3 separate regions of the Homo sapiens genome follow, and regions 1 and 2 are each linked to region 3. Evidence: fine-mapped expression QTL. A gene starts in region 3. Each other region holds a variant in brackets. All regions are shown on one strand. Distances are between the middles of the regions. Region 1 holds the start of LOC105374764 (a long non-coding RNA gene). Region 2 has its middle 97 kb from the start of MIR5192. Region 3 holds the start of B3GNT2 (UDP-GlcNAc:betaGal beta-1,3-N-acetylglucosaminyltransferase 2).

Region 1 (8,356 bases), 220 kb after region 3:
CACTTTGCAGAGATGAAATTGGCCTCTACTCCTAAGGCCAGAGAACAGTCAGAACCAGATCCCAACTTCTGGGCTCTGCCCTCCCTGGCTTTGCTTCAAGCACAGGGATGGGGAGCACTGCGTAAGGAAGCTTCAGGGCCCTGTGGAATTCTGACCTGGGAGAGGGTGGATCCCCTAGGGGTGTGCAGGCCTGCGAGGGGCACCTGAAAGCAAGAGGGCATTTGGATCAGGTTAACATCTGACCTCTCAGCAGGCCCTGCCCATTCAGACTGGGGAAGAGCTTTGAAGTTTCCTTTGTGTGATGTTTTCATGGCCCTGATCCTACTGTACTGGAATTAGCCCGAGGCCCTGCCCCTTCCCTGGAGATTTGTTCCCCAACTGCAAAAGTCTTAGAAAAATACCGCAAGCTCCACCCACCATCCCCACACCACTGAATGCTTTTTCCTTAGGCTAAAATACCAGGGAGGAAAAGGCCTCAGAACCCCCACCAGGAGACATTCTGTGCGTGTTTACAGTTTCTCAAGTGGAAAGCAAGGACCCCTGGAACCAGATCTGAGGGCAGGTGCTTCCCAGATAAGCATGTTATGGGGTGGGGAGGATGGAGTAAGGGAGGGAGAAGCAAGATTGTCCCTGGAGGCTTCCCAAGCCACGGGCCAGGTCCAGAACAGCAAGGCTGTGGGTTCTGGCCAGAGAGAAGAGGAAGCTGGTGAAGCCAGGCCTTCCGGCCGTGCTCAGTGAGCAAACCATTGTGCCTAGTGTGGCCAAATATCCATCTCGGGGATCTCTCTCTGAGCACCAATGGCTTCTCCTATACTATTGCTCAAGTCCACCATAAAAGCAGTGTTTAAAAACGAAGGGAGAGGAAGACAAAAGAGAGGAAAGCGGAGAGAGAAACGGGAGGAGACGGAGAGAAGCAAGGAATCCCAAACTAGACTGCTAGATTCTGCTAGATTCGGCTTTTCAGAGTAAAGACTCTGAGCAATAGTGCCATCTTGTGGCTATGAGTAGGAATTACAATTAGTTTTCTCTCTCTCTCTCTCTCTCTCTCTCTCTCTCTCTCTCTCTCTCTCTCTCTCTCAATCTCTCTCCCCCCCTCCCTCCCTCCCTCTCTCTCTCTCTCTCTCTCTCTTTCTCTCCCCCTCCCTCCCTCCCTCTCTCTCTCTCTCTCTCTCTCTCTCTGTCGTCTACTCATGGTGTTTGCAACTGCAGGGGCACAAGCCATGGATTTTGTTTCCACCCGAGACAATTGCCTCTCCCCCGACACCTACACCCCAAACTACTCCAGACTCTGCACCCTCTTCTACACACCTCTGGGGTGAGTCCACATTTGCCCAGTAGAAATACCTGCTATCTGATGTTTGACTCAACTCTAAGACTCATTCAACAAATATTTATTGTGCTTTTATTATGTGCCAGGCACTGTCCTAAGATCTGCGGACCTGACTATAAATAAAAATGTCTCCTTTCATGCACTTTACATTTTAACTAGGGAGGCAAATATTAAACACATACATGTAAAATATAATGGGATGTAGTAACAAGTGCAATAAAGGAAAATAAGGCAGGGGATTCAGGGCTATTTCAGATAGGGTAATTGATGAGCTACAACTTTTTTTTTTTTTTTCAGAGATAAGGTCTTGGTGTGTTGCCCAGGCTGGTCTTGAACCCCTAGCCTTAAGCAGTCCTCCTGCCTCAGCCTTCCAAAGTGCTGGGATTACAGGTGTGAGCCACTGTGCCTGGTGCAGTCGCAACTTTTATCAGCACAGATATCTGCTAATATCTGTGCAAAGGCATAGATGAGGTGAGGGAGTAGGGCAGGTGAGTATCTGAGGGAAAAAGGACCTACAAACACAAAGACCAAAGCCGTCTGTCTGGATCTTCCCTGAGATGTGACTCCAGAGTAGCAGCCAAAGAATATGACACTCAGGAAGTCATCTAGGGTTCGAGGTGCTAAAGCCAACTTTTTTCTTTTTCCTTTTTTGAGACAAGGTCTTTCTCTGTTACCCAGGCTGGAATGCAGTGGCGCAAACACGGCTCACTGCAGCCTTGATCTCATGGACTCAATTGATCCTCCCACCTCAGCCTCCCTAGTAGCTGGGACTACAGGTGGGTGACCCCATGCCCGACTAATTTTTGTATTTTTTGTAGAGATGATTTTGCCATGTTGCCCAGCCTGGTCTTGAACTCCTGGACTCAAGTGATTCACCCGCCTTGGCCTCCCAAAGTGCTGGGATTGCAGGTGTGAGCCACCATACCCAGCCTAGAGCCAACATTTCTCTTTTTTTCTATGCTTAGCATCCAAAGCTATCTTTATCAAAATCCACCTGCTAAAGCCCCCGCTAGGACAGCATGTGGGGAGGCTCTAGGCCATTCTGGATTCAGGACCTTCTGGCTCCATTCTGAATACAAAAGCTGACTTTTGACGTGAGAAATCTGACACACTCTTCACTCTCTGAGCCCAGGATTTTCTTTGCCAAAGAGCTGGGCTTCTTTCTGTAGCCAGTGGTGATCCCACAAGCTTGCCTTTGCTTATATCAAAGACTCCAGATCTCCAGTTGAATGTCTCCACCAAGACATCAGAGTTGAAATTAAAAAGAGCATTTCTTTCAGAGAATAAGCCCAAGCTTTGGAGATCTGGTTTGTACCCAGTCCCTGTTCCAGGCCAGCCTGCTCTGTCCCTTGCTCATTTAATTTTCTAGGTTAACAAACAGAGCAAAGTTTCCAGGTGTGCTTGCAGAATATCACCTGGAACATTATTTGGAGGAGAGAGGCAGGGTGCTGAGCTTTTTCTGAAGCTTTTTCTGAAGGCTTATATTCTGTAGGTCAGGGAGCCAGTTACTTACAAGTAAAACTGTCCCCAACAAGATTGCTCTATCAGGGCCCATTTGGGGTTGGCTTTTCTAGCATATGAGTCTAGCATATGAATCAGGCCAGGTGTGGTGGCTCACACCGGTAATCCTAGTGCTTAGGGAGGCTAAAGGGAGCCGGTTGCTTGAGACCAGGGGTTTGAGATCAGCCTGGTCAACATAGTGAGACTCCATTGCTACAAAAAATTAAAAAATTACCCAGGCATGGTGGCACGTGCCTGTAGTCCTAGCTAATTGGGAGGCTGAGGCAGGAGGATTGCTTGAGCCCAGTAGTTCGAGGTTGCAGTGAGCCGTGATTGTGCCACTGTACTCCAGCCTGGGTGACAGAATGAGACCCTGTCTCTAAAAAAAATATAAAAATTAAAAAAAAAGTATGAATCAAGTATAGCCTGAGTGGACTCTGGGTGGACAAGGGGACTGGTTTCATCTGGTTACTTGACTCAGAAAGTCAAAAATAGGCTGGGCATGGTGGCTCACGCCTGTAATCCCAGCACTTTGGGAAGTCAGGGTGGATGGATCACTTGAGGTCAGGAGTTCAAGGCCAGCCTGGCCAACATGGTGAAACCCCATCTCTACTAGAAATACAAAAATTAGCTGGGTGTGGTGGCACGCCCCTGTAATCCCAGCTACTCAGGAGGCTGATGTGGGAGAATTGCTTGAACCTGGGAGGCAGAGGTTGCAGTGAGCCTAGATCGTGCCATTGCACTACAGCTTGGGTGACAGATTGAGACCCTGTCTCAAAAAAAAAAAAAAAAAAAAAGTCAAAGATACCTGAGGTCTTTTCTTCAGTGTCTGCATTCTCAATGTTCATTTCATACCCGAGAAGCAAAGCCAGGCAAGGCAGCCTGGTAAATGGGCCCGGATCTTTTCCCAGAGAGCACTTTGTAACCTTGATAACAAGACTCAAATGACCTCCACCAAAATCAAAAACAAAACTAACAAAAGCCCATTTGAATGTTAGAAAACATCTTCACAATGAATCTAGTCTTTCTGTTTTTGTGGTTTCGGCAGCTGCTTTATTTGGGTG[T/C]GTTCTTGACAGTCATGGTTTCAGAGGGTTCTTCTATCCAAGAGGAAGTCAGTCCTCTGAAGACCAAGTTTGCGTACTGGACAATTTGAGCTGACAGCAGCTGCCAACTCATGCTCGGCTCTTCACGGTGGACTGTCTCTTGTGCAGGTCAGCTTGTCCTGGCAGATGCTATCCATGGCAGTGCTTCCCTGCCTGGGCCTGGGGAGAGGCCCTCCTGGGAGATTCCTCTTCTGGCTGAGCCTGTACCTGGGCCTGTGTGCAGGTAAGGAAGGCAGGTCATTGCTGCCTTGAAACTAATCCAGTGGATGTACCTGGATCAGAAGACAAAATGAACTCACCAAATGTCAAATCATTGTTAACCAGGGCAAAGACTTACTTGTCCTCTCCCTGCCATGAGAAACAGCTCTGCCAACCACTGTCACATCTCCAGTGAGGGCTCTCATGGTATTTGCAGTGTGTGTGGTTGTTGTTTTTTGGAAGATGGGATCTAGAGAGTAAGAGGGTGTAGGGGTATAGGACTGGCAGCATTGGCAAGGGCTTAGAGCAAGGACATTTGGTAGCTGCCCGTGGGAGTGTAAACATTTCAGGAGGCCAATCTGGCAATGTGTGTCACGCCCAGAACAGTCCTGGCTTATTGTTATTTATTAATTACTATGGATTTTTAATATTATCTTTTTTCACTCTCAAAGAATCCTGCTTTGTAGAATAAATGATATAATCACCCAACCTTTGGTGTGCCTTTAGGGAATGTATCCTAAGAATATGTACAAAGATGTAGATTTAGGGATGTTTACCACAGGGGTACCAGGCTTAAAGAAAAGCTAGAGATAAGTTATGTGGTTAATAACAGAGAATTAACTAAATTAGTTAAATAAATTATAGTACATTCCACACAGTAGAATGCTAGATAGCCATTAAAATGAAATGTGGAAAAATATATAGTTCCATGGGAATATATGCATATTATTAAGGAAAATTACTAAACATTTTTTATATATAACACTATTATATATAGTGTTTAGTAATATATATAGTGTTTAGTAATTTAATATTAAATACTATATATATTTAGTAATTCACTATATATAGTAATTTAACATTAATGATTATATATTATCATGCAAACCTAGTTTACAAAGAAAAAAACATATGCACTGAACAAAAGACTTGAAGAATATACACTAAGCCATCATCAGTGGTTATCTCCAGGAAGTGGAATTAGAAGTGTCATGTACTTTCTTTTATGCCTTTTCTGTATTCCTACATTTTCTACAAGGAATGTGTATGTTGTAGGCAGAATAATAACATCAAAGATGTCCACCTCGTAATCCTCAGAACCTGTGAATATGCTAGCTTACATGGCAAAAGGGAACTACGTCTACAGATAGAATGAAGGTTGCTGATCAGCTGCCTTTGAGAAGGGGAGTGTATCCTGGATCATCCAGGGGAGTCCAGTGCAATGTCAAAGGTCCTTAAAACAGGGAAGAGGGGCCTGGCATGGTGGCTCACGCCTATAATCCCAGTACTTTGGGAGGCCGAGGCGGGCAGATCACGAGGTCAGGAGATTGAGACAATCCTGGCTAACACGATGAGACCCCGTCTCTACTAAAAATACAAAAAAAAAAAAAAATTAGCTGGATGTGTTGGTGGGCGATTGTGGTCCCAGCTACTCAGGAGGATAAGGCAGGAGAATGGCGTGAATCCGGGAGGTGGAGCTTGCAGTGAGCTGAGATCGCGCCACTGCACTCCAGCCTGGGTGACAGAGCAAGACTTTGTCTCAAAATAAATACATAAATAAATAAAATGGGGAAGAGGGAGGCAGAAGAGTGAATGTCAGAGTGATGTGATATGATGTGAGGAAGGCTTGACCAGCCATGGCTGGCTTTGAAGAAGGGGCCATGAGCCAAGGCATGTGGAAGCCTCTAGGAGGTGCAAAAGGTGAATGGATTCCAAAAGGAATACAGTCCTGTTGCACCTTGATTTTAGCCCAGAGAGACCCATTTTGGACTTCTGACCTCCAGAACTATGAGATAATAAATCTGTGCTGTTTTAAGCCACTAAGTGTATGATAATTTGTTATAGCAGCAATAGGAAACTAACACAAGAAATTTCCTTTTTAGTCAGAAAAAAAAGATAATAAGAAAAGTCATTTTTAAAGAGAGGATTGGGCTGGGCTCGGTGGCTCATGTCTGTAATCCCAGCACTTCGGGAGGCCAAGGCAGATGGATCACTTGAGGTCAGAAGTTTGAGGCCAGTCTGGGCAACACAGCAAGGCCCTGTCTCTACAAAAAAATGAAAAAATTAGCCAGCCATGGTGGAGTGCACCTGTAGTCTCAGCTACTTGGGAAGCTGAGGCAGGAGGATTGCCTGAGCCCAGGAGTTTGAGGCTACAGTGAGCTGTAATGGCACCACTGCACTCCAACCTGTGTGATAGAGCAGCATCTTGTCTCAAAATAATAATAATAATAATAATAATAAAATAGAGGATTAGAAATCATTCTTTGTAATCTAACCCAACAGCCATCCAGGGAGGAGGCCTATAATCTGCATGAGGAGCTTCTAGAACTAGCTGGCTGTTGTTTTGTTATTAGCAGAAAACAATAATATTGTCAATAAGTAAATAATCAAGAACCCCAAGCAGATTTAACCCAAAGAAGACTACCTTAAGGCATTTAATAATCAAACTCCCAAAAGTCAAGGATAAAAAAAAGACTCTAAAAGCAGCAAGAGAAAAGAAACAAATAACATGCAATGGAGCCCAAATATATCTGGCAGCAGGCTTTTCAGTAGAAAACTTTACAGGCCAAGAAAGAGTGGCATGACATATTAAAAATACTGAAGGAAACAAAACTACCCTGGAATAGTATATCCGGTGAAATATCCTTCAAACATGAAGAAGAAATAAAGACTTTCCCAGACAAACAAAAGCTGAAGGATTTAATCAACTCCAGACCTATCCTACCAGAAATGCTAAAGGGAGATTTCAATTGGAAAGAAAAGGACATTAATGAGCAATAAGAAATTATCTGAAGGTACAAAGCTCACTGCCAATAGTAAATACACAGAAAAACACAGAATATGATAACACTGTAACTGTAGTTTGTAAACTACTTTTATCCTAAGTAGAAAGAATAAACGATGAACCAGTCAAAAATAATAACTACAACAACCTTTCAAGACATAGTCAGTAAAATAAGATAAAAATAGGCCAGGTGCAGTGGCACACACATGTAACCCCAGCACTTTGGGAAGCTGAGGCGGGTGGATCACTTGAGGTCAGGAGTTCAAGACCAGCCTGGCCAACATGGTGAAATCCTGTCTCTAGTAAAAATACAAAAATTAGCTGGGTGTGGTGGTGCATTCCTGTAATCCCAGCTACTCAGGAGGCAAGGCAGGAGAATTGCTTTAAGATCATGCCACTGTACTCCAGCCTAGGTGATAGAGCGAGACTCTGTCTCAAAAAAAAAAAAAAAAAAAAAGATATATAAATAGAAACAACAAAAATTTAAAAAGCTGGGGGATGAAGTTAAGCCATAGAGATTTTATTAGTTTTCTTTTTGCTTGTTTGTTTATGCAGAGTGTTAAGTTGTTATCAGGTTAAAATAATGTGTTATGGCCAGGCGCGGTGGCTCACGCCTGTAATCCCAGCACTTTGGGAGGCCAAGGCAGGCAGATCACGAGGTCAGGAGATGGAGACCATCTTGGCTAACACAGTGAAACTCCGTCTCTACTAAATATACAAAAAATTAGCTGGGCGTGGTGGCAGGAGCCCATAGTCCCAGCTACTCAGGAGGCTGAACCAGGAGAATGGCATGAACCCAGGAGGCGGAGCTTGCAGTGAGCCGAGATCATGCCACTGCACTCCATCCTGGGGGACAGAGCGAGACTCCGTCTCAAAAAAAAATGTGCTATAAGATAGCATTTGCAAGCCTCATGGTAACCTCATACAATTAATACACAAAAAATAAAAAGCAAGAAACTAAATCATATCACCAGAGGAAACCATTTTCACTAAAGGGAAACAGGAAGGAGACAAAAAAGACCAGAAAATAAATAACAAAGTGGCAGGAATAAGTCCTTACTTATCAATAATAACATTGAATGTAAATGGACTAAATTCTCCAATCAAAAGACATAGAATGACTGGCTGAATGGATGAAAAAATAAGACCTATTGATCTGTTGCCTACAAGAAACACACTTCACCTATAAAGACACATATACACTGAAAATAAAGGGATGGAAAAAGATATTCCATGCCAACAGAAACCAAAAAAGAGCAGGAGTAGCTATGCTTATATCAGACAAAATATATTTTGAAACAAAAACCTATAAGAAGAGACAAAGATCGCTATATAATGATAAAGGGGTCAATTCAGCAAAAGGATATAACAATGTTAAATATATATGTACCCAACACTGGAATACCCAGATATATAAAGCAAATATTAATTAGAGATAAG
Region 2 (8,356 bases), 110 kb after region 3:
CACATCCCAAGAAGCCCATACACATAATGGACACCAAAGAGAAATCTTTCCAGCAAATGGCAGCCAAGTGTTGCATCCTAAAGTCAGAATATCATGATGGTTTTCTGTTAGAGGAAGTCCAATGTCTTAAGGAAGGGCACTCTTTGGTCTAATTGGCACAGGGGCAATGGGGTAGTGTCAGCCCCAACATGGGGTAGTGGCAACCACGGTCAGAGTACACGGTGATGTCCTCACTGGGGAGTGACAGTGACTACACTGTATTGCTAGTGGCCAACACTAGCAGTGATGTATGGAGTTGGCAACATCACTGCTTGCCTTGATGATGGCCAGGCTGGTGCTCATGCAAAACCTGCTGCCGATCCCACTGAAGCACAGTGGAGAATAGCCCAGAGAGAAGTCCAGGAAGGCTTTATCAGCGGAGGCAGTGTTGATGAGATACTTGGGCCCTGCCAGGAGGAGGAGGAGGAGGGGACCATGGGGTAGGGGCCTAGGGTAAAAAATATTTCTATTCACACTGCAGTTGTGACTCAGTCCCTTAGGATGCTGTGACTGGGAAACTCACATTACACTGTGTATACACATACATTACACTGTAACCTCCACTTCCTGGGTTCAAGTGATTCTCTTGCCTCAGTCTCCTGAGTAGCTGGGCTTACAGGTGTACACCACGACGCCTGGCTAATTTTTTTGTATTATTTTTAGTAGAGACGGGGTTTTGCCTTGTTGGCCAGGCTGGTCTCGAACTCCTGACCTCAAGTGGTCCCCCTGCCTCTGCCTCCCAAAGTGCTGGGATTACAGGCATGAGCCACTGCGCCCAGCCCTGTATGATTTTTTTATGTGCAGCTCACATTCAAAATTACTGCTTGGCTTCTTTGGCGCAGAACCTCCCTTCTCCACCAGGGCCTCTCACTGGGTCTCAGTGGTAGACACTCTGGAGGATGCCTGCCTCACTCTTTGAAGTGAATTATTTTGGGTATCACCTTGATCCTAAATAAGGTCAGACAATCCCAATATGCTCTAAACATTTGTTCAAATCTTATTCAACTATTTTCATGTAGTATAATAAAATTTTATTAATATCTCTTGGTTTAATTCATGATCATTTTACATGTGGTGATATTGACTGAGTCCAAGCACTACCAACTCTGCCTTCGCTTTTTTTTTCAATTTTTAATTTTGAGGGTACATAGTAGGTATACATCCTTCATCATTGTGAAATTAAAATGTGTCTTTAGGCTGAGCACAGTGGCTCACACTTGTAATCCCAGCACTTTGAGAGGGTGAGGCGAGAGGATTGCTTGAGCCCAGGAGTTTGAGGCCAGCTTGGGCAATATAGAGAGACCTTGTCCCTACAAAAATATAAAAGTTAAAAATTAAAAAACAAATATGTCTCTTAGTGATTTTTTTCTTTTCTTAATTACATATTCACTGTAACAAAAAAGTTTGAAGTTACAGGTAGGCAAAAAGAAGAAAATTAAAACACCCCTAGTCCTATTCTCAGAGTTAGCTATTACTTACCACTTGATGTATTTCCCTCCAATCTTTTTCTGTATATGTACATGTGAATGTTTGTGTATAAAAAACTCACACACCTATAAAACATAAATAAGACATCCAGCTACCTCAATAACTGCATTATTCGTTTCTAATATGTATACTTTTTCACGTATTTGCCTATTTTTATTTCATAACCATCTGTTCTTATTTGTGATGGCTATTCTTTCATTTAGTTCCCTGAAGTTTTATGTATACATTTTAAAACCCCCTTCAAGATTGTCTATTATCTCTAGTTCCTTAAGTATAAATTTTCTTCTTTGGGGGGGTCTGAAAACTGCCTTTAGTGTTGTTGATCTTCCTTATAGGGTGTGTAATTCTTGCCTATGAGCTTGTCTTTCATGGGAGCCATCTTTCTTGGGACTTCTCCACTGTGTGGTCTGGGTTTTAGAAGAAGGATTCCGGTGAGGAGGTTTCAGTGTTGTCCTATGGAATAGAGCACTGACTTCAAACCAAGTCTATGGCTAGTGGACCAGGACTGTTGACTGTTTCCACTGATAGCTGGGCAGATGGCTTGTGTTCAGCCACAACCTTGGGCAGCCCTCTTCCTGAAGGGGTGGCATGGTCCTGCCTCCTGGACTCATGGCTTCCTGCTGCATGTGGGGCTCATGACGCATTGAAATTGCAACCACAGCTCATCCAGTCTGAGTCCCCTGTGGGTCTTCCGGCTTTAGCTCCCATTTACAGGCATGTTTTATTTTATTATACTTTGCTTTATTGCACTTTGCAGATATTGCATTTTTTACAAATTGAAGGTTTGTGGCAACCCTGCGTGGAGCAAGTCTATCAGTGCTATTTTTCCAACAGCACGTGCTCACTTCATTAGCATTTTTTAGCAATATTATCTTTTAATTAAGGTATGTACATTGTTTAGACATATGCTATTGCACACTTAATAAACCACAGTATAGGGTAAACATACTTTTATATGCACTGGGAAACCAAAAAATTTTTGTGACTTGCTTTATCATGATATTTACTGCGTGGTGGTCTGGAACTAAACTGGCACTATGCCTGAGGGATGCCTGTATGACTTTGTTCCTACTCTGTCCCTGGAGATTTCCCTTTCTTGCATGGAGCTTGGACATATCAATCTAAAATATATTTTTATATTTTATTAAGTTTTTCTATGCATTTGCAATAGGAGATGACAGCAGTAGGGGGAGTTCACCCTGTGCTCAACATGTTGACCTGAAATTCAATAGTAATTATCCTTACGTTGATTTGTGTTTGTCCTCCATACATCCAACATCTTCTTAACTACTTTAATTGCTTTGTCATTTTCTTCCATGTTCACTAGAATTATCTCAAGATTTTCCTGAGCTGGGAAAATTTCAAGCTTCCTTGATGTTTCTAATTTATCTAATAGCTCTATAAAGCTCTTGTTTTCATCCTGAATTTTTTTCCTTAGCTCTGAATTTCCTTTGCATTTCACTTGGTAGACTTATCAAGTCATCTTTGGGTTCTCGTTTTACTAAATTTCAAAAGCATATTAAATATTTTAAAATTAATTATATACCAAGTTAATACAAATTATTAATTGTTAAATTAATATAATTAACTATTAAATTAAAATGATTAATTAAGTATTATATATTCTTATTTGTTCTACAATGTGAAGCATTCTCAGGAGTTTTCTTCTGTACTTGGGAGAGAGATTTCTCCCAATCTAGATATCTGGATATGTTTATCTTTTTCATGTTGTGTTTCTTGCTTTTTTTGTTCGTTTTTGAGACAGAGTCTCACTCTGTCACCCAGGCTGGAGTTCAGGGGTGCAATTATGGCTCATTGCAGCCTCCACCTCCTGTGCTCAATTGATCCTCCTGCCTTATCCTCCAGAGTAGCTGGGACTACAGGCGTGCGCCACTACACCCTGGTCATTTTTTCTATTTTTCATAGAGACAGGGTCTCACTATGTTGCCCAGCCTGGTCTCGAACTACTGGGCTCAAGTGATCCTCCTGCCTTACCCTCCCAAAGTGCTGGGATTACAGGCATGAGCTGCCGCACTCAGCCTGTTTCTTGCTTATTTTCCTTCTCTTCTTTCTCCTACTCTGCCTTCTCCTTCTTGGTGTTCTTCTTTTTTAAAATCTAGTATGTTGGCTTAGCCTTCATGCTGTCTCTTTTAATTTTGCACAGGTAAGTCTGATCAGACTATCTAACGCTCTGAGAGTGTGAGGACGAATTCTTTTTGACACCTTTTCTAGCTACCTGTCATTTCCTCAATACTAGAGTTTGGGGACTGGGTGGTACTTCCTTCCTGCTTCCTGAGCTCTGAGGGTCACATGGACAGGTGAAGGACAGAGCTGGGCCTGGCTCCCTCCTGACGTGGGCTAGCATCCCACACCTGGGTCTGCTCCACTTGGCAGGCACATGTCCCCTCCTGGGACTTCAGCTCATTCCCTTGGACAGCACAGAGTTCTGAACAGCAGCAAGTCCAGCCAGCCACTCCTCCAGCCGCTGCTGGCTTCTGTGATGGTGCCCAGGGGCTCCTCCTCTCTGGAGCTTCTCCTGGACTCCCCAGGCTGCCTTTAGCATCTTGGCCCTCTTTGTGCCGAACTGAGAGGTGCTGGTGACCCTTCTTGGGATCCTGTTCTCTTACCTTCCCTCATTTGGCTTCAGCTATGTGTGTGGGAGAGAGACAGCTAACATTCCATTCTGAGACCCTCTATTTCTTCCCTCTTGACACCTTTTCAGTCTTATGTCATAAGGTTGTACTATTTTCCATGTGTGGTTGCCTCTGGTTAGCTTTTGACTTTTTTGTTTTTGTTTTGTTTTGAGATGGAGTTTCACTCTTGTCACCCGGGCTGGAATGCAATGGCACAATCTTGGCTCACTGCAACCTCTGCCTCCCAGGTTCAAGCAATTCTCCTGCCTCAGCCTCCCAAGTAGCTGGGACTACAGGCACCCGTCACCACGCCCGGCTAATTTTTGTATTTTTAGTAGAGCCTATTGTCCAGGCTGGCCTCAAACTCCTGACCTCAGGTGATCTGCCCGCCTCAGCCTCCCAAAGTGCTGGGATTACAGAGATGAGCGACTGCACCCTGCCAGCTTTTGACTTTTTTCAAAAAAATTATTCTTTGATCACCTTATGATGTGCCAGGGAGAAGGAGGGGTGCTTCTGGCCTCGCTTGTGCCACCCTTACCCAAAATCCAGGCACATGTGCTGTCGAGGCTCCACGCAAGACCCCAGGAACTCCTGGGTCTTTGCTACCGCCAGAGGGTTGCACCTGCTTCTCAGACAGAAGACCCCCGTCTCATGGTTTCTCTTTCTCAGGCCTCCAAACCCCTGGTTA[T/C]TTCATCTTTGAAATGAGTGTTTCATATGCAATTAACCTATGTTGAAACTTTACCAACTCTAAAGTGAAATTATACTTCCTTCCTACATCTAACTCTACCTAACCATAGAGTTCCCCTCCCGAGTATTTCTGAAAGTTTCCCAGGGACAGCTTTGCACAGCTCCAGAAAGTATCTCTCACTCTCACTCTACCCTTTTCTTCTTGCTGCCATGATTCTGCCTCTGTAGCTTATGGGACTGGCGACTTAGTGACTCTGCCAGGCCTTGGGAAGGAGACATTGCCCTCCCCAACCCCCCACAGCTCATCTGACCACAGGTTCCACTGAGTTGGGGCATAAAGAAAGCAGCCTTAGAAATTTCCATCTGCCTCCAGAGGAGAAGTGTCTTGTACCCAAAGGCCTCCATTTGGCAGGGGCCACTTTAGCTCCCACCAACAGCAATATACAGGCCCCCTTTCTCCACAGAGAGAGGAAGAAATCCCTCCCTTTCCAGCCCACAACACTCTTCCTTGCCTGCCTTGGGATGACAGACCATGAGGACACCCCTTTCTGTTAGGGGCAATCTCCCTCCTCCCTCCACACCTGAAGGTGTGGTCTGACCCTTTCCCCTCTGAGAAAATAAACCACCATCTTAGTGTCCAGTCTGAGTGTTTTGTTGTCAGAGCCTCAGGCCCGTCTAGGCAGCATTGTTCCCTCCCAGCGCATCGTTACAGCCTTTCCTCCAGCCTGAGGTGAGGAGAGGGTCAGGTCTTCCAACCTCTGGTAACCCCATCTCCCAGGAACAAATGTTGGACAACAAAGCACTCATGTCACCCAGGAGCCAAAGGGCAACCTCAACCAAGATTTTAAAAAATGGACACCTTAGAACATGTGTCTAATTTGTTTGGGGGCGGTTCTACCCATAAACACAATTAATGTTTCCTAACAGGACCCATAATGACTTTGCTCAGAATCACCCCACGTGGGCTTCCTCCAGAACAGCGGAGGCTTCTTGCCTCACAACAGGCGGCCTGCGAATGCTGCCCAACATGGTTAAAATGTGAGCACGCTGGCGGCTGACTCACAGGAAATGGTTCCCAAGGCTATGCCTGAGATAAGGCTGGCTTCTGGAGGCCTCTTTGCAGAGGAACCAATCCCACCCCAACTCCCTGATTGGATAATAAGACTCAGAAGCTCCAGTTCTCCCCTTCCTATGTGGCTTTGCAGGTTCTGTGTCTGACTGGACTGCCACTTTTCTCACGTACCTGTGGTCTGTGCTACAGAACATCCTAGCCACACAAGAAAGGTGGGAGCAGTGGGTGGCTTGAGGCCAACTGAGGTTTCAATCCAGTTCCTCTCCCCTGCCACCTGCCTTACCTGGTGCTACCTCTGCAAACACCACCTGCTGGGACAGTGTGGGTGGGAGGGGCTGGTGAGGAGGATTATTTCCTGTTACTGCCTTGGGGAAGCTGCTGAGGGCATTGCTCACGCCTTTGATCTGGGCATAGAAGGAAGCCACCTGCCCTAGCCAAGGTTTTAGTGCAATGACCAGATGAGAGGCTTCAGGTTACCTCGGGGCCCTGAGTCTGGAATCCAGAGTCACAGAGAATGAGGGAAAGTTGTGGAATCATTGGTGGAGACAGGATTGGAAACCTCTTGCAGCCAGAAAAATCACCATCACAGAGGGAGACTAGAAACCATCTCTGGGCCTGAACCTATCTTTGCTCCCGCCTTTCTTGTGCGGTCAGGTGGTTCTGGGACAGTAACCTCAGGCAGGTGAGAAAAGTGGCAGTGCAGTCAGACAATTCACAGAGGCCAGACGGGACAGGGAGAACTGGAGCTTCTGAGTCTTATTATCCAACCAGCCAGGCAGTGGGGGTGGGCTTCGCTCTTCTCTGCAGAGAGGCCTCCAGAAGCAACCTTATCTCAGGCACAGCTTATGAAGCTCTTTCCTGTGAGCCAGCCACCAGTGTGCTCAAATCTTAACAAACAGCATGACCTTTACTTAATAAAGGCCTGGGGGAAAGCCAGGGCAAGCGTTCCCACTTTAAAGTGCTTCATAAACGACGTGGCACCTGCAGTCACAAGGATGACATGATTAGCCTGCTGTCACCTGAGTCATTTTTTCCAGATGTGGTGAGGGGCAAGGCAGCCAGCTGGTGTCATGGAAAAAGCTCTGGATTCGAGTCTCGGTCAGATGTTGGCTACCCACTCAAACTGCTGCCGTGGCAGCCCTGCCTCCTTGCACGGCCGTTTCACATCTCTGATGTGGGAGATGAAGAGGGGTATGATCCATGCCTGGTATTTTGCAAACAGAATGCATGCATTCATAGATATGAGAGCACTGAAAAAACCCAAGCTCTTGATTCGGCAGCCAGACTGTGTAGGGGGATGTTCACTAGACTTGGTGTTTAAAGACTCAGGTAGGATCCAAGCTAATTCTATTTTTTTTTTTTTTTTTTTTTTTTTGAGACAGAGTCTCCCTCTGTCACCCAGGCTGGAGTGCAGTGGTGCGATTTCGGCTCACCGCAACCTCCACCTCCCGGGTTCAAGCAATTCTCCTTCCTCAGCCTCCCAAGTAGCTGGGATTACAGGCATAAGCCCCCAGCCTGGCTAGTTTTTTGTCTGTTTGGTTGGTTGTTTTTGTTTTTGTTTTTGTATTTTCAGTAGAGATGGCATTTCACCATGTTGTCCAGGCTGGTCTCGGACTCCTGACCTCAAGTGATCCGCCCACTTCAGCCTCCCAAAGTGCTGGGATTATAGGTGTGAGCCACCATGCCCAGATGGATCCAAACTAATTCTTAGTCATGTAAATCTAAGCAAGTGACTTAGTGTCTCCGGATCTCAGTTTTCTCCACTGTGGAATGGAATGGTTATAATCACCCTGCACCCGGCTCTCCTGAGAGGTAGATGAAATCAGATGGGGATGCATGGGAAGTGCTGTGGGGGCGGCGTACTCCGATGTTATTTGATGCTGTCTAAGGTTAAGCCTTCTTATTTGGGCTACTAGGGCAGAGCCCATCTGGGCCTCCCAAGTCCATTCTCTTTCAAGAGAAGAGAGCAGCTGCCAGTTGCCCTGGTAACCCAGACCAGCAGCAGGCTTCCTGCAGGGACTTTCCTGCCCTGGCACAGTTGTCAGTTTCCCTTCTCAACCTTAGCTGAGGCCGAAAGTGTGGTGGAGACACAGGTTTCTCAAGCAGGGCCCTCAGCAGAGCACACCGTGCCCACTGGCATTATTGCCACAACTTCTCCTTGCTTTGTGGAAGAGAATCTGGTTACACATCTTACTGGTTTTTCTGCTTTCTTTCTGTGACTCATCATGTTTGTGAATATTTCAGGTAAACACTTGGAGGGGGCAGCCTTCTTGGCTCAGTTTTCTGCTCTCTGTGTTCTCTGTGCCAGGCTGGTGACCCTCCTCTCTGTGTCCAGCCCCCTGTCCCCTGGAAATAGGTAAGGCATCTGAGATTGCTGGCTGCCTCGTCTGTCTTCAGCCAGGACCTGAGGGGTTTGTCTCTGTAGCAGTGGAGTTCA
Region 3 (6,559 bases):
GCCACTAGACACATCTTTTGTCACCCATTTTGAGTGCTGTTGACTACTGCCTCCTGCTTAGAGTGCTTTTGTCCCTGGACTCTGTGACCCCCACCTCCCCAAACTCCTAGTTTTTTCTTTTTTTTTTTTTTTTTGAGACAGAGTCTCACTCTGTCGCCCAGGCTGGAGTGCATGGTGTGAACTCGGCTCACTTTAACCTCCACCTCCTGGGTTCAAGCGATTCTCTTGTCTCAACCTCCCAAGTAGCTGGGATTACAGGCGCCTGCCACCACGCCCAGCTAATTTTTAGTAAATATGGGGTTTCACCATGTTGTCCAGGCTGGTCTCAAACTCCTGACCTCAGGTGATCCACCTGCCTCGGCCTCCCAAAGTGCTGGGATTACAGGCGTGAGCCACTGCACCTGGCCAAGCTCCTGGTTTTCCTCCTGCCTCTCTGGCTGCTCTTCCACCTCCTCTGCCAGAGGTTTGCCTCTGTCTGGCCCTTAGATAAGAGTTCCTCAAGGCTCAGTGGTAGGTCCTCTTCTGATCTAATTGTACACTCTCATAGGAGCCCACAAGCCTCTGGTGACTTCATTACCACTGCCACACCAGCTATTCCAGCCCCAGCCTCTCCTCAGAGCCCCAGACCCTGCAGCCAACCACCTGTTCAACATCTCCACCCGGACATCTCACAGGCACCTCAAACCTACTTTGACCAAATTTGAACCTTGAGAGGGTTCTCCAACTCAGAAAATGGCACCACCATCCATCTGGTTAAAGAAGCAGAGATCTGGGAGTTTTCCTTGATTCATCCCCCCTAAGCAATTACCAAGTCTCGTTGGTGTCTACCTCTCTACATTTGCTCTACTGCTTAAACAAATGGCCCCTCTCACATTATAGCAACAGCCTCCTAACTGTCCCTCCATTCCATTCTTCCCCTTTCCCTATTCCTTCTTCACACTGCAGTCAGAGTGATCTACTTCAAAATGCAAAATTGAGTGTATGACTCTTGTTTCAAATGTCTCAGGATAAAGTCCAAACTCTGTAATGTGGTGTACTGGCCCTGCGTGATCTAACCCCTGCCTGCCTCTCTAACTTCCTCCTCAACCACTTCTTCCTTTATAGTCTGAACCAGCCAGGAACTCCTCATGGACTCCCCAGATGATCTCACCACCTTGCACTCCCTGTGGCCCATATCACAATTGTAATTAATTAATAGTGCATTTAATTGTTAAGCCCCTCTCTCCAGCTAGACTGTGAGCTCCAAGCAGGGAGTGTGTTTGCCATGTTCACCACTCCAGCGCCTAGTCCTGTGCTGCATCTAGAGGATGGCCAGTACATTTTTGTTGAATAAGTGAATAACACATCTCTGCCTACTGATGATGGACCTGGGTCCCAACCTAACAGTAGGGACTATAGCCAAGCGATGTGGAATCTAGCATTGAGTTACTCCCCAAAAGACACAAGGTAACTATTGTAGATATACTCCCAACTGTGTTAAAGCCACCATGGAGAAAATGCCCTTATTTATTTGAGACGGAGTCTTGCTCTGTCGCCCAGGCTGGAGTGCAGTGGCACGATCTCGGCTCAGTGCAACCTCCACCTCCCGAGTTCAAGCAATTCTCCTGCCTCAGCCTGCCAAGTAGCTGGGACTACAGGTGTCCACCACCACACCTGGCTAATTTTTTTGTATTTTTTGTAGAGACGGGGTTTTACCATGTTGGCCAGGGTGGTCTTGAACTCCTGACCTCAAGTGATCCGCCCACCTTGGCCTCCCAAGGTACTGGGATTACAGGCATGAGCCACCGTGCCTGGCCTAAGAATACCCTTATTTTTAAATTTCATGGCCTGGGCAGCCTTGGGCAGCGAGGGACACAAGCTTAATTTCCTAGTTGGTTGCCAGCTGACATTGTAGCAGCTCCTTTACTATAAACTCCTTGGCTGGCCGTTCTTGCAAGCATGTCTGTGGCTACAGGGAGTGCATTTAAAGGGAAGACACATATGCATGGAAACAATATACCAATCTGATGGCACAGAAAATCTTCCTTAGATGTCCGCTTTGTCTCAACACTGCATTTAAATATCAGACAGCAGCCTAGAGATATCTTTATTTAAACCCAGGAACATGGACTCAATATTATTTTGATACAGAATGAAGACATAGACTTCATTTATTAATTTATACTCCCTAGAGTTCTTTTTTTTTTTTTGAGACAGAGTCTCACTCTGTCACCCAGGCTGGAGTACAGTGGCACGATTTCGGCTTACTGCAACCTCCGCCTCCCTGAGTTCGGCGATTGTCCTGCCTCAGCCTCCCAAGTGGCTGGGATTACAGGTACATGTCACCATTAATTTTTGTATTTTTAGTAGAAACAGGGTTTCACCATGTTGGCCAGACAGGTCTCGAACTCCTGACCTTGTGATCCACCCGCCTCGGCCTCCCAAAGTGCTGGGATTACAGGCGTGAGCCACCGCGCCCGGCCTCTACTTCCTAGAGTTCTTAGAGAATTTCTAGCTTCTGTTTCTTTAAACATGTTTTATTAGCTTTCTAAATTATGAAAGTAAATACAACTGGAAAAATACAAAATCCAAAGTCAAGGGAGTAAAAAAATGTAACTCCCTTGTTTCCCCTCCCCGCGTAACCGTGGTTAACAGTCGGTGTGCACCCTTACAGATGTTTTTTCTATGAAAATACAAACATTCGACTTGTTTCTTGGACTTTACCTCGCAGTCCGAGGAGAATCATGTGAACAGCATGAAAGCAGCATGGTCCGAAGACTGCAAACCATAACATTTCCATATCTACTGACTCTGAATTCCTGTTTCTAGAGGACCCGCACCCACGTGGCTCTGTGCATCCGCAGCAACTTGGTCTTTCTTCCTTTGCTGAGTTTGGTTAAGGGAAAGGGCCGATTATTGAGTGGGCTCAGTTCACAGGTGCCTGAAATTCCTACTTAGCAATGTTCCTTTCCAGCTGATTCCGCCTCCGAGAGCCTTAGGAAAAAATGCTAACAGTTAGGAGCGAAGCGTCCTTAATTGCTCAGTCCAATTATCTAGATGGGTCCAGGTTCGGTTTCGATTCAGAGATAAGGACCAGGGGGCGGGGACGCTTCCAGGTGAGCCCCTGGTTAGGCTTGCCTCCCCGCGGAGCGCACGCGGGTCTCGCTGGCTGGACTGGGCCTTTCAAGACCAGGTAACTTCTCCATCCGGTATCGCCAGGCTTACCTGGGGGCCTCAGAATTGTGTCAGCTGCGTCTCTGAGTCACCTTGGAACCCCTCGAAGGAGCGCGGGGCTAGGAGGGCGCATCGGTGGGCCCGGGGACCCCGCTGCTAGGTGTGGTTGGCGCCAAGGCCGCCTCTGGCCGGCGGAGCCCTGCAGTGTCCGGAGGGTGCGGTCAGAGTCCGGCCCTTTAGGCCTTGCCTCGGTATCCGCCTTGCCCCTTGGGCCGCGGCACGGGTTCGGGCCGAGCGCCCGGCATCTTGCGTTTCTGGCTTCCTGAGACGGGCGTGGGACCTCGAGGAAACCACTCTGCATGACCCCACGAAGAGAACTAAGGACCACCCCCCACCCTTCCTGTCCTGGACGGCTTCATAAGCCAGAGGATCCAGTGGCAGTACCAAGCAGGGCACCACTCTGGGTCGTGAGCACCTAAGAGGTGGAGCAAAGGTCAGACCCCAGGGTGGCCCAGGCCTCCCTCCCCCGCCTCCCCGGCGGGGCCATTCCTCACCCGCCCCAGCACTGGAGGGGGCGGCCGGGGTCGGTCTAGTTCCGGTTACAAACTGGACAGAAAAGGCCACTGGAGTCTCGCTAGGCGATGCGCCTAGTCCCCTAGCCTCAGACGAACCGCAAGAGGGGCCACCCACAACTGGAGGGGCGGAGGCTGGAGCTGAGTTTCATTAGTGTTTTTGGAGCTGCCAGGCATTTCCAGGGGGGTCGCCTTCCTAGAGGCCCCCTTTCCCCAGCTTAACCCTCGGCTTTGCAGGAGGGTGCGTGGGGGCTGGAGGGTCCCTGGAAGCCGCAGGGAGCGCGGGCCCGGGTGGGTCCTGGTACCGGGTGGGGAGAGCGGAACCCTCCCAAAACTTGGGGCGCGGGGCGGGGCCGTCGGGCGGTGACGTGAGGGGCGGGGCCGGGCCCCATTGGCGGGCGGGCAGGGGAGGGGCGGGGCCGGGCGCCCGCGGCGGCTGCTGCGCCTGGAACCGGAGCCTGGAGTGAGGCGCAGCGGCAGCGGCAGCAGCGGCAACAAGTGCCGGAGGCTAGCAGAGCCAAGCCGGAGCAGTCCCTGCCGCCGACACCGCCGGGCCGCCCGTCCGGGGCGCCGCGCATGGAGCGTGAGCTGCGGCGGTCGCCGGGCTGAGCCGCGCGGAGCGGCCGGGACGTGGATGTGGCCGCGATCTCCCGCCCTTGCCCCCGCCCCGCCGAGCTGGAGCTGCTCCCGGACAAGGTAGGGCCCGGGCGCCGAGCACCCCCGCCGGCTCCCTCCCCGCTGCCCTCTCACCGCCAGGCCCCTCTACCAGTCCCCTTCCGCCTCCCTGCTTCCCGGCCCCACCTTCCGGACACCCTGCTACCCCCGCCCGGTTCCTCGCCGGTTCCGGCTTCGTACCCGCGCCCCGGTGGAGGAAGCCGTCCCTAGGTGGCTCCTGCCGCATTTAAGCCTCCCTTACCTTCCCGCCGTCCCAGCCACCCAACCTCAGCCCAGAGGGAGAGGAGAGGGACACCGCCCGCTGCGGGGCTTTGGAACCTCCCAACCCATTCCGTGCCCACCTCGCCCTGGAGCCCGGGGACCTTCCCCCTCCTCGCTGCACCCCAACTTCCGGGGGATCCGGCGCCGGGGCGATGCGGGCTTTGGCAAGGGGCATCTGGGGCCGGGCCTCCTCATCCGGGGCGCGCGGGCATTTCGGGGAGGGGGGCGCGCGTGATTCCTCGCTCGCACCCCCGCACCCCACCCTCGCACTGCGCCGGCCTCCCGTGCCGCATGGGGAGATCAGGTGTTTTGTGAGCCAAAGAGCCGCCGGCAGCCGCTCCCCACCCCCCACCCCCAACCTCTGCCACTTCTGTCTCCGGCTCCCCCAAAACTGGTTTCTGCCAAACTTAGGGAAAACCTTTCGCTTTGACCTTTTAAAAAAAATATTCCACACTGTTTGCGTTGAATGATTAACCAGGCTGCTAGCCCGAGTCGTGGGGGTGGGGTGGGGCGGGGTGGGGTGGGTGCTGCCAGGCCAGGGAGCGCCTGAAGCCGGACTCTACGAGACACCCCTCGTGGGAAGGTGGGCGTGGGGGGCCCTGCCGGGGCTGCGGGCGCGGGACTGGCGGCTACTCCAGCACGGCAGGCGGACCCTTCTGGAGGCAATAAACCGAGTCACCCGGTTAATTTCCAGGCCACGGTATTTGAAACTCGGGGCTGGGGAGCCGCAGAACTCCCTGTACCCCCATCAAGTAGAGGAGCCGTCGGGAGACTCCCCACAAGTGTCACAGCGTCAAAGCTCATCTTTAAAAATATGTACATTTATAACCTGGGTTGGCGAGGCGGCGCTCTTCTGCCCAAAACGTAGGGGTGGTTAGTTTGTAGAGTGGGCTTAGCTCACAGGTGCCTGAGCTGTATCCCCGTGGCCGCCTCAGCCACCCCAACTTCTCAGAAAGATTGTTTAGAACAATTAAACTATATTCTTTTGCCCTTCTCTTGTTGGAACCCTACCGTAATATCCGATAGCGAAGCCAGTTGGTGAATATAGAATTCTACTTGTTAAAACAAATTCTTCCGGTATAATTATTTGTGCCTCTGGAGGTGGTAAACGAGGTGGCCGACAGGGCCGGGACTGGGAGTGAAAAGGCGGGGACCCTGGCCGAGCCAGTCCCGGGGCTCCGGTGCCGGCTTATAGTCGCACCCATGCGGATCTGACAGCTGACCCGGAGGGAGGACCGGCAGGGCAGGGCAGGGCGGTCACTTCCCATTGTCCTAACTCCTGCTCCTGGTTCTTTTGAGTAGAGGGTGGTTAAGCCTGGAGGAATTTGGGAGAGTTTTACTCGGAGCCCATGCGCTCTTAAACCAGATTAGATTTTAAGAACACAGAAGTGAAGGAGCCCCATAGGGCTGTACTTGAGTAATTTGAGTAATCCTTTTCCTCCCTGCTCAGACTTTACAAATGTGTTTATCATTAGATCTTCTGTTTGAAACTACTTTTTTAGTTCGGAATATTGCTTTTTCTCCCTACAGCAAGGGTTCACTGTTTCTCATTTAGTTTTTGTGCAGGCGGCATTTGTATGATGAAGGCCTAATTCTCTGTGAAACTGACCAGTTCTCACCCTTGCCATTCATTAGACTTGATTCTGCCACATTTAATTCAGTGATCTTGGGCAAGTTATTCTTCACCTGAGCCTCATTTTACACATCTGGTTTTGGGGATGGTGGTGTTTGCTCTGCAAGATTATTTCTGAGGACAAATAGGATGTTTGCCAAACTCCTAGCACTGCACCAGGAGAGCTAAGAAGTGCTTAATAAATGGTGGTCATTGCTGTAATCAATAGAGAAGTTCCTCCTGGCATCGACTTCCCCTTACCAAAAACAGTAACCCTGTGGTAGCC

The links. PIP is the estimated chance that this variant, and not a neighbour inherited with it, causes the effect.
Region 1: its variant is fine-mapped to the expression of B3GNT2 in whole blood (TOPMed, PIP 0.96).
Region 2: its variant is fine-mapped to the expression of B3GNT2 in whole blood (TOPMed, PIP above 0.99). The same link has a PIP of 0.9 or more in neutrophils.

The regions. Positions count from the first base shown.
Region 1 is chr2:62,411,274-62,419,629 of GRCh38, forward strand. LOC105374764 (a long non-coding RNA gene) reads left to right here and starts at 3,920. Exons shown (of 6, transcript XR_002959390.2): 1 at 3,920-4,156. RefSeq lists enhancers at 1-460, 732-921, 4,082-4,151. The variant T/C (reference allele first, on the strand shown) is at 3,895.
Region 2 is chr2:62,298,997-62,307,352 of GRCh38, forward strand. No RefSeq gene overlaps it. Among named protein-coding and RNA genes, the nearest start is that of MIR5192, 97 kb to the left of the region's middle. RefSeq lists enhancers at 4,057-4,136, 4,207-4,276, 6,288-6,815, 6,816-7,341, 6,907-6,976 and 2 more. The variant T/C (reference allele first, on the strand shown) is at 4,849.
Region 3 is chr2:62,191,935-62,198,493 of GRCh38, forward strand. It overlaps B3GNT2 (UDP-GlcNAc:betaGal beta-1,3-N-acetylglucosaminyltransferase 2), which reads left to right and starts at 4,181. Exons shown (of 2, transcript NM_006577.6): 1 at 4,181-4,421. LOC124906013 (a long non-coding RNA gene) reads right to left here and starts at 4,079. Exons shown (of 2, transcript XR_007086336.1): 1 at 3,205-4,079; 2 at 2,055-2,973. RefSeq lists enhancers at 2,666-3,273, 3,880-4,486, 5,467-5,576 and silencers at 3,567-3,796, 4,087-4,526, 4,707-5,056.